Regions from separate parts of the Homo sapiens genome. Here region 1 is linked to region 2. A link means that fine-mapping ties the variant in region 2 to the plasma level of a protein whose gene starts in the linked region. Region 2 holds a variant in brackets. A gene starts in the other region. All regions are shown on their reverse strands. Region 1 holds the start of AGRP (agouti related neuropeptide). Region 2 overlaps TRIB1AL (TRIB1 associated lncRNA).

The links. PIP is the posterior inclusion probability: the model's chance that the variant is causal. The UK Biobank Pharma Proteomics Project read protein levels with antibody pairs (Olink). The fine-mapping took linkage between variants from a reference panel, not from the people measured, so its PIPs are less certain.
Region 1: AGRP starts here. The variant in region 2 is fine-mapped to the plasma level of the AGRP protein (UK Biobank, PIP 0.99).

What each region holds. Positions count from the first base shown.
Region 1 is chr16:67,481,155-67,486,529 of GRCh38, reverse strand. It overlaps AGRP (agouti related neuropeptide), which reads left to right and starts at 2,983. Exons shown (of 4, transcript NM_001138.2): 1 at 2,983-3,013; 2 at 3,129-3,261; 3 at 3,420-3,505; 4 at 3,712-3,959. The coding sequence starts at 3,132. The coding sequence ends at 3,894. ATP6V0D1-DT (ATP6V0D1 divergent transcript) reads right to left here and starts at 5,136. Exons shown (of 4, transcript NR_184227.1): 1 at 5,011-5,136; 2 at 2,202-2,420. ATP6V0D1 (ATPase H+ transporting V0 subunit d1) reads left to right here and starts at 5,373. Exons shown (of 8, transcript NM_004691.5): 1 at 5,373-5,375. RefSeq lists a silencer at 5,093-5,262 and an enhancer at 5,373-5,375.
Region 2 is chr8:125,489,090-125,494,464 of GRCh38, reverse strand. The region is part of intron 2 of TRIB1AL (TRIB1 associated lncRNA); the gene reads right to left. Among named protein-coding and RNA genes, the nearest start is that of TRIB1AL, 25 kb to the right of the region's middle. The variant ATGGTGG/G (reference allele first, on the strand shown) is at 2,318.

The DNA of each region.
Region 1 (5,375 bases), not on the chromosome of region 2:
TTTTTTTTTGAGATGGAGTCTCACTCTGTTACCAGGCTGGAGTGTTACCAGGCTGGAGTGCAGTGGCACGATCTCAGCTAACTGCAACCTCCGCCTCCTGGGTCCCAGTTCAAGTAAATCTCCTGCCTCAGCCTCCCAAGTATCTAGGATCATAGGTGCGTGCCACCATGCCCAGCTAATTTTTGTATTTTTAGTAGAGATGGGGCTTCACCATGTTGGCCAGGCTGGTCTTGAACTCCTGACCTCATGATCTGCCCACCTTGGCCTCCCAAAATGCTGGGATTACAGGCGTGAGCCACTGCATCCGGCTGTGAAACTTTTTTTTTTTTTTTTGAGAGAGTCTCGCTCAGTCACCCAGGCTGGAGTGCAGTGGCGCGATCTCGGCTCACCGCAAGCTCTGCCTCCTGGGTTCACACCATTCTCCTGCCTCAGCCTCCCAAGTAGCTGTGATTACAGGTGCCCGCTATGACGCCCGGCTAAATTTTTTTTTTTTTTGTATTTTTAGTAGAGATGGGGTTTTGCTGTGCTAGGCAGGATAGTCTCCATCTCCTGACCTTGTGATCTGCCCACCTCGGCCTCCCAAAGTGCTGGGATTACAGGCGTGAGCCACCGCACCTGGCCTTTTTTTTTTTTTTTTTTAATGGGGACTGGGTTTCGCCATGTTGCCCAGGCTGGCCTCGAATTCCTAGGCTCAAGTGATCTGCCTGCCTCAGCCTCCCAAAGTGCTGGGATTATAGGCGTGAGCCACCACCACCATGGCTCACTGCAGCCTCAATCTCCTGGGCCGAAGCTATCCTCCTCCCTGTCTCCTGAGTAGCTGGGACTACAGGTGTGCATCACCACATTCAGCTAATTAAATTTTTTTTTTTTGGTAGAGACAGAGTCTCACTATGTTGCCACTCCTGGGCTCAAGAAGGTGTGAATCACTACACCTGGCCGTTTTTTTTTTTTTGTTTAGTTTTGTTTTTGTTTTTTGAGACGGCAACTTGCTTTGTCGCCCAGGCTGGAGTGCAGTAGCGCGATCACAGCTCATTGCATTTTGGCGCTGGGTTTTCTTGATATCTCCCCCACTGGACCTGACCGGGGCATGGGCTGCCCTGTGAGTGCCTCAGCCCTCGTCCATCACTGCCCATGGGGCTGATACACCTGTGTGCACACACTCAGGTGAAGACAGCTGCTGCCCGTAGGTGAGGTAAGACACTGAGCACCTGTGTGGGAGGAGATCTTCCACTCCCACTCTGTCCACACCAGACCATGAAGAGCTCTCCATAGCATGGGTGCTGACCAGGCCCAGCCTGGGTGACAGAGTGAGACCCTGACTCAAAGAAAAAGACATAATGAGGTGTGATTTTAATTTCTTGGATGTCCCAGTATATATAAATGTTGGGAGTATGGATTGCTTCATTTCATTTTAAATAGCATTTTTTTTTTAAGATGGAGTCTCACTCTGTCACCCAGGTTGGAGTGCAGTGGTGCGATCTCTGCTCACTGCAGTCTCTGCCTCCCGTGTTACAAGTGATTCTCCTGCCTCAGCCTCCCGGGTAGGTGGGATTACAGGCATGTGCCACCATGCCTGAATAACTTTTGTATTTTTAGTAGAGATAGGGTTTCACCATATTGGCCAAGCTGGTTTGAACTCCTGACCTCCAGTGATCCGCCCACCTTGGCCTCCCAAAATGCTGGGATTACAGGCGTGAGCCACCGTGCCTGGCCACCCTTTATCTTCTTTTCTTTTTGAGACAGGATCTTGCTCTGTCGCTCAGCCTGGAGTGTGGTGATGCAGTCATAGCTCACTGCACTCTTGAATCCCTGTGCTCAAGCCATCCTCCCACCTCAGCCTCTACTACAGGCATGCACCACTACACCCAGCTATTTTTTTATTTTTTGTAGCAACGGGGTCTCACCATGATACCCAGGCTGGTCTTAAACCCCTGGCCTTGTGATCCTCCCACCTTGGCCTCTCAAAATGCTGGAATTACAGGTGTGAGCCACCATACCTGGCCCCCTTCATCTTTTTTCCACTGCCTTGTGCCAACCCAGTTTGTGCACTGGGGCCTTGCGATCCTCTCAAAGCTGATTCAGCCTGCATTCCTTTCCCAGATGGACACGTGTGTGATAAACAGCTCTGCAGTGGGGTGAGGGAAGGCAGGGGCAGCAGGGTCCTGTATGTCCTGCCATCTCCACAAAAGGGCAGTCCTTACCCCAGCCTTGTGCTGATGAGACCAGGCATAGACAGTCCTGACGACACAGGGCGGAAGGGAGCAGCCATTAGTGCTAATGAGGCAGGCGGCCTGAAAGCTTTGTACTCTGCAGTGGCTCGCCCACCCAGGGAACAGTTCGTTCTGTTTCCTTGGCTTCCAGGAACCCTAGGCAGAAAGGGGTTTGGGGACAGGAGCAGGAGTGGGCGGTCTTGGAGAAACCTGGAGGGAGAAAGGGAGGGGAGGACCAGAAATGTAGTCAGGAGGGCCTAGGATTGGTTAGGTGGGCTTTTCCTTCCCCTTTCCCTCCAAAGAAACCCAGGTTCTGGTTCTGCACCTACCCCTGCCCAACAGTGGCCATTGGCCCATCACCCGCTCCAATGTCCTTGACCCGAATTCTTGGAAGCACAGGAAACAACATGCCACATAGGGGTTGAGTAAGCATCTCTGGGGCCACAAATTAAATTAAGCTTTCAGGGCCGCCTGCCTTGTTATTGCTAATGGTTCTAGCCCTGCTCAGCTCCTAGGTCCCTGTCCTGTGGAAATTTGTGGACCCTGGGCACCCTCTCTTGCTCCCAAATTTTAATCGGCTCCTGGAAACCTCACCCCAAATTGGAGATAGGCACTCCTCTTGTAGAACAAAAGGCTCAGGTTCAGGGAGTGAGGGCCTGAACTGTGCCCCCACCCTCCAGGAAGGGTCCTTCACGGCCTGGCTGCAGGGATCAGTCACGTGTGGCCCTTCATTAGGCCCTGCCATATAAGCCAAGGGCACGGGGTGGCCGGGAACTCTCTAGGCAAGAATCCCGGAGGCAGAGGTGAGTCCTCAGGTTGGGCAGGGACTCCTCCTCTCTGTGGGGTCTCTATCTGGGCACCTAGAGGGGACTCCAAGGATAAGGAGGGACTAAGTGGTACATCTTCCTGCTGAGCCAGGCCATGCTGACCGCAGCGGTGCTGAGCTGTGCCCTGCTGCTGGCACTGCCTGCCACGCGAGGAGCCCAGATGGGCTTGGCCCCCATGGAGGGCATCAGAAGGCCTGACCAGGCCCTGCTCCCAGAGCTCCCAGGTCAGTGTGAGCAAGGGTGGGACTGGGCGGGGCCTGAATACCCTCTGGCCACAAATAGTCTCCCCTGGCATAAACCCTCTTTCTCCCTTCCCAAACCCTCCCCTGGGAGGTGGGTGCTTTGTGCATGGGGGTTCCTGCCCTCACATCCTCTGCCCCAGGCCTGGGCCTGCGGGCCCCACTGAAGAAGACAACTGCAGAACAGGCAGAAGAGGATCTGTTGCAGGAGGCTCAGGCCTTGGCAGAGGTAACTGCTCAGGGAAAAGGGTAAGGTGGTGGCCCTTGGGAGGGGGCATTGGGTATTAGCTCCTCTCCCCAGCTCCAAACTCCCTCACCAGCGACGACACTACCGACCACCCCTTCCCATGCTCCACTGCCATCCTGCACAGGTTGGGACAGGTAAGATCCCTGGATCTGTCTTTAGAGGCCTGTGCTGGTTCCCCACCCCTGCAGGTACTAGACCTGCAGGACCGCGAGCCCCGCTCCTCACGTCGCTGCGTAAGGCTGCATGAGTCCTGCCTGGGACAGCAGGTGCCTTGCTGTGACCCATGTGCCACGTGCTACTGCCGCTTCTTCAATGCCTTCTGCTACTGCCGCAAGCTGGGTACTGCCATGAATCCCTGCAGCCGCACCTAGCTGGCCAACGTCAGGGTCGGGGCTAGGGTAGGGGCAAGGAAACTCGAATAAAGGATGGGACCAACCCCAAGGCTGTGGTTATTTCAAACGTGGCCGTCAAAGGAGGGAGGGTTCATGGAGGGGGTGGGAGTGTCACCAAGCCAAGAAACCACACATACTCTTATCCCAGGGCCTGGGCTACCCTATCATAGGAGGCACATACACGGGCGCTTTTAGGGGTCCTGGTGCCCCTGGGAAAAATAGAGAAGAGCCGCACTCCAGCTTTCGAAAATCTTGTACAGCAAGTGCGGGGAACGCAGGACGCAGCGTGGCACAGGGGCTATCACTCCTGGCTAACAAATAAGCCTTAGGCTCCAGGGCTTGCTGCTACTTCCACGCAAAGCCTGCCCCTCATCCTGTTACCAGAGGGAAGGCCAGGAGTGTGCGTTGTTCAGGTCCTTAGCGTTTCGAACAAAGAATTGAACAAAACCCAGAAAGTAACAAACGAATGACACACAGGAAGGAAGCAGACAGCTGGGATTTGTTAAAGCGAGAAAGCACTACGCAGGGTGGGAGTGGGCCTGAGCAAGAGGCTGAAGGGGCTCAGTTACAAAGTTTTCCGGGTTTTAAGTACTCCTTTTGCGGTCCCTGTCCGTTACCCCTTATCTGGATGAAGGGTTTGGTCCATGGCTAATTAATCCATTTATGCCTGAGGTTGCAATCTTTTTGAATTTTTGCAATCAGACCTTGGCCATGACCTTGAGCAGTAGGATATAAATAACTCCCATATGCTTAGCGTTCCAATAATGGAACACAAGGCATAAATGGGGCTAAGGTGAATTGGCGCCCTATGCAGATGAAGGGATGGCCCGTGCTTGGCCCGCAGCCAATCCAAGGCACTCTCCCTTTCAACTGAGACGTGGTGGAAGGGGGAGGGTTGTGGGGACAGTGGCCTTTGATCCTTTGTTACTTGGACATGGGGAGATGGGGTTTTTCTTTTTGGTTTAGCTTTAGTAAGCTCGCCTTAGTTGGCCTCCGGTTCCCTGCCCCCAGACCTTGGTGTTTTCCCTTGATTCAGCTTCAGAATTCAGCACGTATTGGCCTCAAGTTCCCCGCCTCCAGACCCTATTCTCCTACCTCAATCGGACCTCAGTTTCCCTCTGGGGAGGAGGCTGGCCCAGCAGTCTGGAAACTTTCCAAGCTTGAGAAGGGCTCGCTCCCTTCTTTACCCCGCCCGCCCTGCAGCGTCAAGTGCAGCAAACCGGGGAAAGCTAGAGAAGGCCCAGTCAAATCCCTGCGGCCACAGGCGCCACCAAGCGGCCGGCCTCAAACTTCCTCTTTTTAGCGCGCAGGCGCCGCAGGGCCAGCCCACGCCTGCACCGCGCTTCCGCGCAGCCACCCGGAAGCCGGGCACCGCTCAGAGCCACGCCCCCTTATGGTCACGTGAGGCGCTTGCGCGTCACCTGACGCACTTGACAGCCCGCTGAGGACGCAGCGTCAGC
Region 2 (5,375 bases):
GAGCCAAGATTGCGCCACTGCACTCCTGCCTGGGTGACATGGCGAGACTCCATCTCAAAAAAAAAAAAAAAAAAGAGAGAGAGAGAGAAATGCAGGATTTGCGAGATTGGCTGTGAGGAACAAAAACATCATTTGACAGTTGGAGAAATGGAGGCAGTATCAAAGTGGCTGAGGAGACAGTCACAGAGGTGGCTGGCCAGAGGCCATGAGGTCTCTTGAGCTGGGACAGTCAAACTTTGCTTAACAACAGCCCATGGTCAGAAACACTTTTTTTTTTTTTTTTCTTCTTTGAGACGGAGTCTCACTCTGTCGCCTGAGCTGGAGTACAATGGTGCTATCTCAGTTCACTGCAAGCTCTGCCTCCCAGGTCCACACCATTCTTCTGCCTCAGCCTCCCGAGTAGCTGGGACTACAGGCGCCCACCACCGTGCCCGGCTAATTTTTTGTATTTTTAGTAGAGACGGGTTTCACCGTGTTAGCCAGGATGGTCTCGATCTCCTGACCTCGTGACCCACCCACCTGGGCCTCTCAAAGTACTGGGATTGCAGGCGTGAGCCACCGTGCCCGGACCAGAAACACTTCTTCTGCAGTGACCCAATATCCACACATAGAGGGTGACTTGTGTGCACACACACACGTGCATATCTACATATAAAAGAAACAAATGGAGGAGATGGATTGGAGTTGGGGTTTGGGGTGTCTGTGGCAACTTCATCTGGCCCTTAAGGGGCAGGACGACTCCCCTCAACATCAGGGTTACACATGCAAGAACACAAAGAACATGCTCAGAACACTCCCCTGGGCGCTGTGTCTGTGTCTTTGTTCCTGTGGGTCATGCAACTGTATCTGGGAGCCTAGGAGTCCTCCTGTCCATGTCTGTGTATCTGTCTCTGTTTGCCCCTGTAGACCATAGGAAAAGAAACACAAACTTCTAGTGTGAAGACGTTTTCACAGTTCTTTCTCCATATGTCTGGGACCCTCTGTGTCATGGGGCTAAGCGGAGCCTGGGCAGAATTCTGGCTTTGCTCTGGAATCAGAAAACCTTAGAACTGAAAAAGACCTTGGAAACTCCTTGGCCCAAACACCCCCTTTTAGAAATGGAGAAAATATGATGCATATTATGGAAGAGCAGAGAAGCTTTGAGGAAGGACAAAAATATCTAGAATTGTGTAGGAATGCTTTTACACCGTTGGTGGGAGTGTAAACTAGTTCAGCCATTGTGGAAGACAGTGTGGTGATTCCTCAAGGATCTAGAACTAGAAATACCATTTGACCCAGCGATCCCATTACTGGGTATATACCCAAAGGATTATAAATCATGCTACTATAAAGACACATGCACATGTATGTTTATTGAGGCACTATTCACAATAGCAAAGACTTGGAACCAACCCAAATGTCCATCAATGATAGACTGGATTAAGAAAATGTGGCACATATACACCATGGAATACTATGCAGCCATAAAAAAGGATGAGTTCATGTCCTTTGTAGGGACATGGATGAAGCTGGAAACCATCATTCTGAGCAAACTATCACAAGGACAGAAAACCAAACACCACATGTTCTCACTCATAGGTGGGAACTGAACAATGAGAACACTTGGACACAGGGTGGGGAACATTACACACCAGGGCATGTCGTGGGGTGGGGGGAGGGGGGAGGGATAGCATTAGGAGATATACCTAATGTAAATGATGAGTTAATGGGTGCAGCACACCAACATGGCACATGTATACATAAGTAACAAACCTGCACCTTGTGCACATGTACCCTAGAACTTAAAAGTATAATAATAAAAAAAAAATCTAGAATTGTGTCTTCCAACACAGCAGCCACTAGCCACCTATGGCTGCTGAGCACTTAAAATTGACTAGTCCAGATTGAGATGTACTATAAGTACAAAATATACCCCAGACTTCAAAGACTTTATATGAAAAAGTACGTAAAATTGTTCAATAATTTTTACATTGATTGCATATTGAAATGATAACAATTTTGATCTATTAGGTTAAAATATATTATTGAAATTAATTTTACTTTTTAATTATGACTACCAGAAAATGTCAAATTATGTATGCCGCTCTCATTTCTGGCCCACTTTATATTTCTATGGGACACACTGACCAAGAGTCTTGCGTCAGACATTTAACGTCTCTGAGTCTCGATTTCACCAGGTATAAAATGGGTGTCGTGATGCTTATCTCTTGGAGTTGTTGTGAGGATTAATTGAGAAACCATGTGAAAGAGCTTTTAAATCTTAAGAAGCTGTTCAGATAAAGAGGTGGATATGGTGGTGGTGATGATGGTGATGGTG[ATGGTGG/G]TGGTGGTGGTGGTGGTGGTGACGGTGGTTGTAACTCAGATCTTCGCCAAGAGGGAAGGGGTGAAAGGATAAAGGATTTAATAGTTTGACCTTCAGGAAAATACCCATAGGGGTCAGCCATATGCATGTGATCACCCACCCACCATAATTTTGGTGCTGGAGAAACAATGACCACTCCCAAACTCAGAACCATTACCCAGACCAAGCCTTTCAAAACCCCGAGTCACCATGTTCTTGCTCAGCAACCATACCACACCATCCTCCGCCTCTGCAGGTCCCTAGCCACCCCTCCAGCCTCCTCTGACACAGGAGGCTGTCTCCTCTCAGGGTAGCATGAAGCCCTTCTCCCCAGGGCACCCTTCCTTAGGAGGACAACTCCACATCTGAGTGGGATTTCCCAACAATGCTTTTTCTCTGCTCTTTGCCAGAGGCCCAGGGTCCCAGAGGGCTCCAGAAAGAGGGAGATAGCCCCAAATCTGGCCTGAGGGGACCAGCCCCTTCCTGGGACCATCACCCAGGGCAATCCCTGTTGCAACGGTGGTCTCGTAACAATCGCTTACAAACCCGGTTAGGCAAGCTGCTTTTGCGTGATGGGGCTATCTTGAGTAAACAGCATCCTCTGTCCCCTGCCGGTCACTTGCTCAAGACATTGCTGGACATTGCATTACAGCCACTGACACACGGAGTTTTGAAAATGAAAACAGGCCCTCTGGCTTATGATCAGATAGCATTTAACTCATTTATGATTGCGCCATGTTTTCCCAAGACCCAAGGGCCACAGAACGGATATTGTCACAAATGCAAACAGAAGATGCTGAGGACAGTTGGAGCCTCGGGTCACCTACAAAATGAGGCTTCCAAAGACCAACAGGCAGGTGAGGTCTGCATCACCTTGGCCTCAGTTATCCACACATGGGCATCTGGGGCTATGTAGCTTCTTAGGCTAAGCTGGGACACAGGTTCAACCCCTAGGGGGTTGAGAGAGTTAGTGTTTTCCATTTCATCCATTTTACCCCTTATTCTGGCTACCTTTCCTGCTGATACAGATCAGGAATTGAAAGGGGTGGATAAGGTCTATTTCTGGTATCTATTACTATGTAACAAACCCAAACATACTCGCTTAAAATGACTATTTCTTATTTCTCACAATTCTGCTGGTTGGCCAGACAGTTTTTCTGCTGATTTTGGCTGGTCTCACTCACATGGCTGTACTTTGCTGGGTGGTCAGTGCAAGTGACTTTGGTCAGAAAGTGAAAGATGGCCTCACTCATGACTCCAGTGCTAGCTATTGGCTGGTCACCTTGGCTCTCCTCCACATGGTCTCTCATCCTCCAGTCTGCTAAATGCTTCGCTTACATAGTGGTCTCAGGAGAGCCTTCCAAAAAGTTGAAAGCCACAGAACCTGCTGGTCAGAGCAACTCACGAGACCAGCACAGGGTCAAGAAGAAGGAAACAGGCTCTGCCTCTTGATAGAAATTGCCAAAAAATACAGTTTTCAAGCTACCGCAAGGCAAAAAAGTATAAATGCCTCCATGGAAAACTTCCCAGCATAGAAAATAATCTGGTAAAGTTATATTTTCTGAATCAACAATCCACAGTCCCAGACTAACAAAGGTCTTCCCTCCGATTCATGAATGTGTGGACAAAGGTGAACCAACAGGCTCATACCAAGTTATATATTGAATGCCGTGTTTCTCAGCCCTGGCTGAACATTAAAGTTACTTGAGGAGCGTGTCCAAATCCCACGTCCCTGCTGAATAAGAATTTTGATTGGGATGGGGAAGTGGGAGGGGATTGGGCTGGTAATCTACATTTTCAAAGGTTCTCCCAGTGATTCTGATCCACAACCAAGATTAATAACTGCAGGATTAGCAAACAAACTTTATGGGAAATAAGGTCAGGCAGGATATCTAGAAATATGGGTCATGAGCCTATCTATCTTTTACACATAGGTTCCTGTTAAATCCAATCTTAAATCCAGATCATTGTTGGAGCTATCAGACTCTAACATTGGGGTCTGGACATGAACTAGACGCACACCCTCTCTCAAATTATAGCTGCTACTCACCATGGACCAAGCCTTGTTCTGTGGACTTTCTGTGCGTGAACCCATTCAATCCCCACAGCTCCATGAGGTGGATACTGTCCCCATTTTACATATAGGGAAACTGAAGCTTAGAAAGGTTACATGATTTTTCCTAAGTTACACAGCTAATAAGATGATAGGGTTGGAACTGAAACCCACCTGGCTTCAGAGTCCATGATCTTAGCCATTAAACATGTGCCTCACTCAGAGCACACTGTCCAGGGTAAGGAAGTCGACAACCCACATCAGACTATGAGCATTCTGAGGAGGAAAAGGAAGGGGCCAGGCGGAGGGCTGTCTGTTTTCTTGGCTCATTGGCTGTTCTCAAAGCAGTGGTTCGCCACTTTGCACATTAGAATCACCTGGGGAGCTTTTTCAAACTAGGGCTGAACCATCCGCAAAGATTGTATTAACTTGCTTTGGGTGGGGTTGAGTCATGGAAGGTTTTTAAAAGCTTCCTAGGAAATTCTAGTGCACAGCCAGAGTTGAGATCATAGGCTCCACGGTTGGGCAGGAATTTATCATTCTCAGCAGGGAGGAGGATGGTGGCCCCAGTGTTGGAAGCATCTGTGAACTCTATACCCCAAGAACTTCCTAGAAATCAAACAAGCTCAAGCCAAAAGGAACCTCCTGTATCACCTGGACCAGATATCCCCAATCCTGGTTATACACTGGCAACACCTGGGTAGCTTATAAAATGCCCCACCCCAGATATTCTGATTAAGTGGTTCTGGGATGGAGTGGGGGCATCAGCATCTCTTATATCCATCCTCTCAGGTTGATTTTTTTTTTTTTTTTCAGACAGGGTCTCACTGTGTTGCCCAAGCTAGAGTACAGTGGTGCATCATGGCTCACTGCAGGCTTGGCCTCCTGGGCTCAAGCCATCTTCCCACCTCAGCCTCCCAATTAGCTGGGGCTACAGGCGAGTACCACCATGCCTGGCTAATTTTTGTATTTTTTGCAGAG